Regions from separate parts of the Homo sapiens genome. Here region 2 is linked to region 1. A link means that fine-mapping ties the variant in region 1 to the expression of a gene that starts in the linked region. Tissue or cell type: whole blood. Region 1 holds a variant in brackets; the other region holds the start of a gene. All regions are shown on one strand. Distances are between the middles of the regions. Region 1 has its middle 33 kb from the start of IGSF23. Region 2 holds the start of IGSF23 (immunoglobulin superfamily member 23).

Region 1 (4,389 bases):
AGACAGAGTCTCACTCTGTTGCCCAGGCTGGAGTGCAGTGGTGTGATCTCGGCTCACTGCAGCCTCCGCCCCCCAGGTTCAAGTGATTCTCGTGCCTCAGCCTACCAAGTAGCTGGAACTATGGGTGCACACCACCACACTCGGCTAATTTTTTGTATTCTTAGTAGAGACAAGGTTCACCATGTTGGCCAGACTAGTCTCGAACTCCTGACCTGAGGTGATCTGCCCACCTCAGCCTCCCAAAGTGCTGGGATTACAGGCTCGAGCCACCATACCTGGCCTGTTTTCTCTTAAACACTTATTAATCGTTTGCTGTGTGCCGGGAACTGTTCTGTGTGCTTTACAAATGGCAATTCATTGAACCTCCCAACAACCCTGTGAGGCAGGGGTTAGAGCTACCCATTTTGCAGATGAGGAGACTGAGGCCTTGAGAGTTTAAATGGCTTGTTGAAGTTCACACAGTGCAAATTGCAGAGCCAAATCTGAATCCATGGCATCGGCGACTATACGGTGCTGCCTCTGGGCCTCCATCCTCATCTGGAAAATGGGGCCCATAGTAACAGTGTCATATCGTTTGGATGTTTGTCCCCTCCAAATCTCATGTTGAAATGTGATCCCCAATGATGGATGTGGGCCTAGTGGGAGGTTTTTGGGTCATGGGGCAATCCCTCATGAGGCTTTGGCGCCATCTTTGCGGTAATGAAGGCATTCACGCTCTGTTCATTCATGCAAAAGCTGGTTGTTTAAAAGAACCTGGCAGGCCGGGTGCAGTGACTTATGCCTGTAATCCCAGCACTTTGGGAGGCTGGAGCAGGAGAATCACTTGAGCCCAGGAGTTCGAGACCAGCCTGAGCAACATGGTGAAACCCTGTCTCTACAAAAATTAGGCAGGCATGGTGGCATACACATGTAGTCCCAGCTACTTGGGAGGCTGAGGCAGGAGGATCACCTGAGCCTGGGAGGCAGAGGTTGCAGTGAGCCAAGCCTGCACCACTGCACTCCAGCCTGGGTGACAGAGTGAGACCCTATCTCAAAAAAATAATAATAAATAATAAAAAAATAAAGGCTGGGCACAGTGGCTCATGCCTATAATCCCAGCACTTTGGGAGGCCAAGGTGGGCAGATCACCTGAGGTGATCAAGACCAGCCTAGCCAACATGGTGAAACCCCATCTCTACTAAAAATACAAAAAAGTAGTTTGGCCTGGTGGTGGGCACCTGTAATCCTGGCTACTTGGGCGGCTAAGGCAGAAGAATCACTCGAACCGGGGAGGCAGAGGTTGCAGCGAGCCGAGATTGTGCCATCACACTCCACCCTAGGCAACAAGAGTGAAATTCCATCTCAAAAAAAAAAGAGCCTGGTATCTCTCTTGCCTCTCTTTCACTAGGTGATACTCAGCTTCCCCTTCACCTTCTGCCATGATGATAGGCTTCCTGAAGCCTCATTATGAGCTGAGCAGATGCTGCCATGCTTGTACAGTCTGCAGAACCATGAGCCTAATAAACCTCTTTTCTTTGTAAATTACCCAGCCTTAGGTTTTCCTTTATAGCAATGCAAAGCAGATTAATTCACAGTGCCCCCTTGTAGAGGAGCTGAGAGGACTAGACTGTTTATGTCAAGCTCCTGGAGCAGGGCCTGGCCCATCCTCAGTGCTCGGTAAGTATCAGAGAGTATCATCAGTTACGGGACTATCCTATTTTCCTACCTTCTTTATCGTTTCATCATTTCTGTTCATCATCGCCTAAAGCCTCCTGCCTACTATTTTCCAGGCTCTCAAAATGGGGTTTCTTTGATTTTCATAGCAGCCCGAAGGGGAAGTACAATCATTGCCCCATTTTGCAAATAAGGAAATTAATCAGAGAGGTCAAGTGACTTACCTCAGATCACACAGATGACAGAGGTGGAGCAAGAAATTAATTTGGCTTGTCCTACTCAAAGATTCCCTGCCCTGCAACTTCCCCTTTAAGACATGATTGTTTAATAGAGTGAGTCTGGGACAATGCACATTTGTCAGGTACGCAGGCTCTGGGAAGCTGGAAATGGGACCAGCCAAGACTAGAGCTCTGATATAA[C/A]CTCTGAGAAATGCCCTCCCCAACCTCAGTTCTCAGCCACACCCTCACCTACGAGCAACGCTCCCATCCAGGGCTCACCCCAGCCATGGGGAGCAACCAGGAACCGGGCCATGGGTCCTTTAGGAGTGCTTCCTCCTAGAAGGACATTGGTTTGCGGAGAACAGACTGCAAGAACCCCAGAGTGAGCCGATTTGTGTGTCCTGCCCGGAGCCCTAGCCCAGAGAGGAGATGGCCCAGCCTTCTGTCCCCATGATGAGGGCCGTGCCCATGGGGCATTGGTGGCCAGCCAGGGAGGGACTGGCACAGCCCTCTTCGGTTTACAACTGTTCAATGTCTCATTAACTTCTCCTCTTTGGTCATGTCTCTGGCCCAGCATTCGTGCCCTTTGCTCTTCCCAATCATCCTCATGGTAGGCAAACGTGGGAGGGCAGGGGACTGCATGCTCCCCTCCTGGCTTCCTGCTGTATAAATGGGGAAACAGAGGCCCCAGGAGAGCAAGTGATCCCCCCAGGACCATACAAGGAGTCTGAAATCTGGCCCTGACTGGATTCCAGTCTTTGGCTCAAGCCTCAGCCAGAAGTCTCATCCTGCATATCTGGCCCAGTCTGAAGACTCAGGTGGGAGACAGGAAATGAAAATCTTCAGGAGCTTCAGGGAGGCTCATTGGAAAGAAAAGGAAACTTGTATTTACTGAGAAACCAGCTTTGCCGATGCAACAGCAAATCCTGAGCTCAGCGTTCAAATTTCTCCAGAATCCAACCACTTCTCACCAGCTCCACCCACACCAGCACCATCTCCCACATGGACCATTGCAGTAGCCTCCTCACTGGGCTCCCTGCTCCTGCCCTCCTGCTAACACCTAAGTTGTCTCATGTCCCTTGCCTGCTCAGAGGCTTCCTGTGGCTTCTGTCTCACTCAGGAAAATGCCTAAGTCCCAACACTGGCCTGCAAGGTCCATGGTCTGGCCCCATCCCTGCCCCACCCTTATCTCCCGCTTCCTCCCTTACTCCCCGCTCTCCAGCCACACTGGCCTCTCCACTGTTCATCAACACTCAGGGCACAGTCCTGCCCCAGGGCCTTTGCATTTGCTTTACTTTCTGCCCCAAACACTCTTCCCAAGATAGCCACATGGCTTTTTCCTTCACCACAGTCAGGACCCTGTTCAGATGTCACCTCTTCAGAGAGGCCTTCCCTGGCTGTCCTGTGTACAGCCTAGCACTTCCTGTCCCACCTGTCTGGTTTATTTCTTTCCAACACACTCATCGCCGTGTGACACTCTCCACTGATTTGTGTTTGTTGATTGCTCTCCCTAATATCAGTCCCTTAAAGGCAGGGATTTCTACCTGGTTTTTTTAATTCTATTTTATTTTTTTAGAGATGAGGTCTTGCTATATTGCCCAAGCTGGTCCTAAACTCCTGGGCTCAAGCGATCCTCCCACGTTAGCCTCCCAAGTAGGTGATTCTACAGGTGCAAGTGACTGTACCTGGCCCCTCTGCCTGTTTTGTTCACTCTTGTAAATGCCCAAAGCCTAGCGCAGTGCCTGGCACATGGTAGGTGTTCAATAAATATTTTGTGAATGAATGTGTGAGACCCTGCACTGAGCAGTTGAATCCAAATTAAGTGCAAGTTTCCATCCCCATGGCCATCAGGCTAGAACAGAGAGGCTCAAAAAGCCCCCCAGCCACACACCCTATAAGGGGAGGAGTTGGTATTTGGACCCACATCTAATGCCAAAGCCTGCATTCTTAACCACTGCATTACACTGCTCCTGGATTTAGGGATTTTACTGATGAGACCCACAGAAAGTGTAATAGCCATCCCCACTGATGCCCCTCCCTTAGTTAACGAAGAAATCTCAAAGATAAGAATCAAAGGGCCAGGCGGGGTGGCTCATGTCTGTAATCCCAGCACTATGGGAGGCTGAGGTGGGTGGATCACCTGAGGTCAGGAGTTTGAGACCCAGCCTGGCCAATATGGTGAAATCCTGTCTCTACTAAAAATACAAAAATTAGTATTGGCATGCCTGTAATCCCAGCTACTTGGGAGGCTGAGGCAGGAGAATTGCTTGAAGTGGAGGTTGCAATGAGCCAAGATTGCACCACTGCACTCCAGCCTGAGTGACAAGAGCAAAGCTCCATCTCAAAAAGAAGAAGGAGAAGGAGGAGAAGGAGAAGGAGGAGAAGGAGAAGGAGGAGAAGGAGAAGGAGAAGGAGGAGAAGGAGAAGGAGAAGGGGAAAGGGAAGGGGAAGAGGAGGAGGAGGAAGAAGGAGAAGGAGGGGAAGGGGAAGAGGAGGACGAGGAAGAAGGAGAAGGAGG
Region 2 (4,389 bases), 33 kb after region 1:
GTTGCAGCGAGCAGAGATCACACCACTGCACTCCAGCTTGAGCAACACAGCAAGACTCTGTCTTTAAATAAATAAATAAAAATTTAAAAACAGAAAAAAGAAAAATTGCTTTATTCCCCAGAGTTCCAATAAAATCCGTAAGAGATTGCTTCTCCTTGGCCTGTTCTGAGTGCCACGCCCAGGTCTCCAAAAATCACTGTTGTCAGGGGATGAAGTGCTCTGATTGGCCAGTCCTGGGCCCCTCACCTCCCTGGAGCCATGAGGAGGCTGGTTTCCAAAAGAGAACTCCAGGTGCTGTTACCTGGATACAAGAGAGTACTGGCTGGGTAGAAACCCCAGAAACCTTACAACATAATGGTTATTAACTGCATCGTAAATATTTACTTTTTCCTACAGTGGTCTCCTGACCTAGCTAATCACTCCAGCAGAGGCCTTCAGACCAACTATAAAAAAGGCACTTTAGCAAATGCTAATAAAGAAATAACTGTGTCACCTGATAATGACTATTATTAGAGACTTATGGGTGAACCTTAGCCCCTGGGTGGAACCTGAACCTCTCTGGGAGGGAAAAGCATGAGCTTCTAAGTCAGAAAGATCTGAGTTCAAGTCTGAACACTCCCATTTCACTCACTTGCTCTTCATTCATTTATTCACTAAAAAGAAAACATGTAGGCTGGCTAGGTGGTTCATGCCTGTAATCCCAGCACTCTGGGAGGCTGAGGCAGGAGGATCACTTGAGCCCAGAAGTTTGAGACCAGCCTGGGTAATATAGTGAAACTCTATTTCTACAAAAAGAAAAAAAATTTAATTGGCTGGGAATGGTAGTGTGAGACTGTAGTCCCAGCTACTCAGGAGACTGAGGCAGGATTATTGCTTGAATCCAAAAGGTTGAAGCTGCAGTGAGCTATGACCGTGCCACTGCACTCCAGCCTGGCTGACAGAGTGAGACCCCGTCTCAAAAACAAAAACATGTATTGAGCACCTGTTATATGCAAGGCACTGTTCTAGTCACTAGGGACATAGCCACAAGCCAGACAACATCCCTGCCCTCCTGGATCTGATATTCAAGTCGGAGAGGTGGGACTAAGGAGGGAGAGACAGATAATACAAGTGGACAAATAAATAAATCATCTAAAATAGCGGTAAATGATGTAAAGAAAACAAAACAGTGTGGCTTGCTAGCAAAGAGGTGGGGAACTGAGTTGCAGCAGGCATTAAGAAAGGCCTTTTTGATAGAGTGATGTGTGTGAATTAAGCCAAAATAATAAGATACAGTCAGCTTTGAGATTACATGAGTAAGGTTCTAAGGAGAGGGAACGGCTCATGCAAAGCCCCTGAGCTGGTGCCTCCAAAAACTGGCAGAAAGCCCCTGTGAACGGTTGTGTGATGGTAGGTGAGTTACTTAGCCCCTGTGCACCACGAGAAAATGGGGATGCTCATATCTACCCCTCGAGGTTGCTATGAGGATTCAAATTAGGCAACCCTGTTACAAGGTTAATGCTGTGTCCGGCATATAGTAGGTGTTCAATAAACACCAGCTATTAGTTTGAGTAATATAATTATTAATTTGAGGAGGAAAGAATGGACCTGGGGAGTGAGAAGGGTGAGGAAAAAGTAGCTAGTGTAGCTTATCCTTCTAGAATCTAAAATTCAGGATATAGTCTGAGCAAGCTCCTGATAACGGGATTCTAAACATGCCTCCAGGACATCCTAGACACCAAATTATAATTAGCATTGACTTCATAGTGACTGCCATTCGTTGAGCGCCTACTACGTGACCAGGCACTACTCCAAGCACCTTGTGTCCACGGCCCTGTCTGACTCTGGGGCAGGCACTATTATTAACGCCTCCATTTTACAGAGGAGAAAAGCTGTGGTTCAGAGTCCAAAGCCCCGTCACCTCCTACCAGGTTGACCTTTGGCCATTCCTTGCCTTTGATGTGAGTGATAGGAGCGGGCGATTCTGCTTCTCCCTCCATCTCCCGGCGGGGATTGTACGGTGAGAGAATGAGAGCAAAACCTCAGAGCCCCCTTCCCAGGAACCCTGTCCCAGCCTGGTCCCCACCCACCACCACCACTGACCCGATGCTAGAGAAGGATGCGGCTGGAGGTGACTTCCCAGCCAACTTGGTGTAAGTCATGTGGGGAAGTGGCCAGGGTAGGGCATGGTCATCGTGAGCAGGGTCCTGCAGGGTGAGGCCGGGGCTGCAGACGCGACTGTACAGGTCTATGAAGACCCCATGTGTGATGAGGAGACCTTCTCTGCACAGTCCCTGGACAGAACACGAGATGAGGGGTCCTCTGGACGTCAGCTCCAGCCACACCCCTACCTGGAGGAAGCTGCTTTTAACAGGTGCGTTGGAGACAGCGGCTTCACCACGGGCCAGGGACAAGGAGGAGAGTGTCTCCTTACGAGTCCAAGTCACCCCCACTCAGAGCTTTGACCCTGTCAGTTTGAGGCCCATGCAGCTCAGGCACCCAACTCATGAGAACTCTTGAAGGCCACTCCGCCACAAGAGATGACCCTATTGGCTTCTTTTAGGAAGAAGGGAAGTGAGGCGCAAAGAGGAGAACAGGTCACCTACCCAAGATCACAGGGCTGGCAAGGGGCAGGATCAGAATTTGGGACCCCAGCCCAGCCCCCTTCCACCAGAATGCCCTGTCTCACCCCTGCAATCCGCAACTTAGTAATAATACATATAAATAATAACAATCATAAAATAATAACAGCCGTAATAGAAGGTCACTGTAACTGAATAGATCTATATACCAGCCTGTTTGGGGTTTTTGTTTTTTTGTTTTGTTTTGTTTTGAGACAAGGTCTTGCTCTGTTGTCCAGGCTACAGTGCAGTGGCCCGATAATGACTCATTGCAGCTTCAACCTGCTGGGCTGAAGCTGTTCTCCTGCCTCAGCGTCCTGCGTAGCTGGGACCATAGGTATGCGCCACCAAACCCAGCTAATTTTTTATTTTTAGTAGAGATGAGGTCTTACTATGTTGCCCAGGCTAGTCTCGAACTCCTGGGCTCAAGCGATCCTCCTGCCTCGGCCTCCCCAAGTGCCAGGATTACAGGCGTGAGCCACTGCGCCCAGCCTGTCAGCCCGTTCTAAGTGCTTTCCTATAGTAACATTTACCTCTTATCACAACTCTTTGAGATCAGAGCTGTACGATCCCTATTTCACAGAAGGGGAAACTGAGGTTCAGAGAGGTCATGTGCCCTCTCCAGGTCACACACTTGGAAGTGGCAGACTGAAGATTTGAAGCCAGATGGGCTGGCTTCCCAGACCACACTTTCCAGAGACCACACACATCTGCCTCTCAGATAGTGAATGAATTGCTTCCTTATCCAGGTCTTAAAAGTTCACTTCTGAGTTGGGCGCGGTGACTCACACCTGTAATCCCAGCACTTTGGGAGGCCGAGGCAGGCGGATCACGAGGTCAGGAGATCGAGACCATCCTGGCTAACACGGTGAAACCCCGTCTCTACTAAAAATACAAAAAATTAGCCAGGCCTGGTGGCGGGCGCCTGTAGTCCCAGCTACTCAGAAGGCTGAGGCAGGAGAATGGCGTGAACCCGGGAGGCGGAGCTTGCAGTGAGCCAAGATCGTGCCACTGCACTCCAGCCTGGGCGACAGAGCACGACTCCGTCTCAAAAATAAATAAATAAAGTTCAGTTCTGAGCCGGGTGCAGTGGCTCACGGGTGCAGTGGCTGGGATTACAAAGTGCTGTAATCCCAGCACTTTGGGAGGCCAAGGCGGGCGGATCATCTGAGGTCAGGAATTCAAGACCAGCCTGACCAACATGGAGAAACCCCGTCTCTACTAAAAACAGAAAATTAGCTGGGCGTGGTGGTGCATGCCTGTAATCCCAGCTACTTGGGAGGCTGAGGCAGGAGAATTGCTTGAACCCAGGAGGCGGAGGTTGCGGTTAGCTGAGATGGTGCCATTGCACTCCAGCCTGAGCAACAAGAGCGAAACTCCATCTTTAAAAAAAAAAAAAAAAAGTTCAGTTCCATGTAATTTTAAAACCTCAAAGTCCACCTAGTTCAAAGCTTTGCTCTGTCCCCAGCTCAGGCAGGTGTCACACTGGAAGGAGGAAAGGGACGTGGTGGGCCTCTTCCCTATTTTGTCAGAGCTGTTGTCTGAGGCCTCTCTCAGGGCGGAGGGCAGAGGGGAGGAAGGAAAGAAAAGGAGATTGGAAAGTTTCTCCTAGGCTGCTGTAGTTTTGTGATGGAAACACGGCATGCTGTGTGTTGCTGGATCTTCCTGGGGGCGGGAGGGTGGGGTACTTTGGAAATTGGCTGTGCCACTGGATAAAACAGCAACCAGTTTTTAGAAAGTGGTTTACAACATGTTTGCAAAGTGAGCTGGGGGAGCTTACAAAACATTG

The links. PIP is the estimated chance that this variant, and not a neighbour inherited with it, causes the effect.
Region 2: it holds the start of IGSF23, and the variant in region 1 is fine-mapped to the expression of IGSF23 in whole blood (TOPMed, PIP 0.91).

What each region holds. Positions count from the first base shown.
Region 1 is chr19:44,578,365-44,582,753 of GRCh38, forward strand. No RefSeq gene overlaps it. Among named protein-coding and RNA genes, the nearest start is that of IGSF23, 33 kb to the right of the region's middle. RefSeq lists an enhancer at 1-464. The variant C/A (reference allele first, on the strand shown) is at 2,073.
Region 2 is chr19:44,611,639-44,616,027 of GRCh38, forward strand. IGSF23 (immunoglobulin superfamily member 23) reads left to right here and starts at 1,925. Exons shown (of 5, transcript NM_001205280.2): 1 at 1,925-2,132. The coding sequence starts at 2,008. RefSeq lists an enhancer at 3,337-3,838.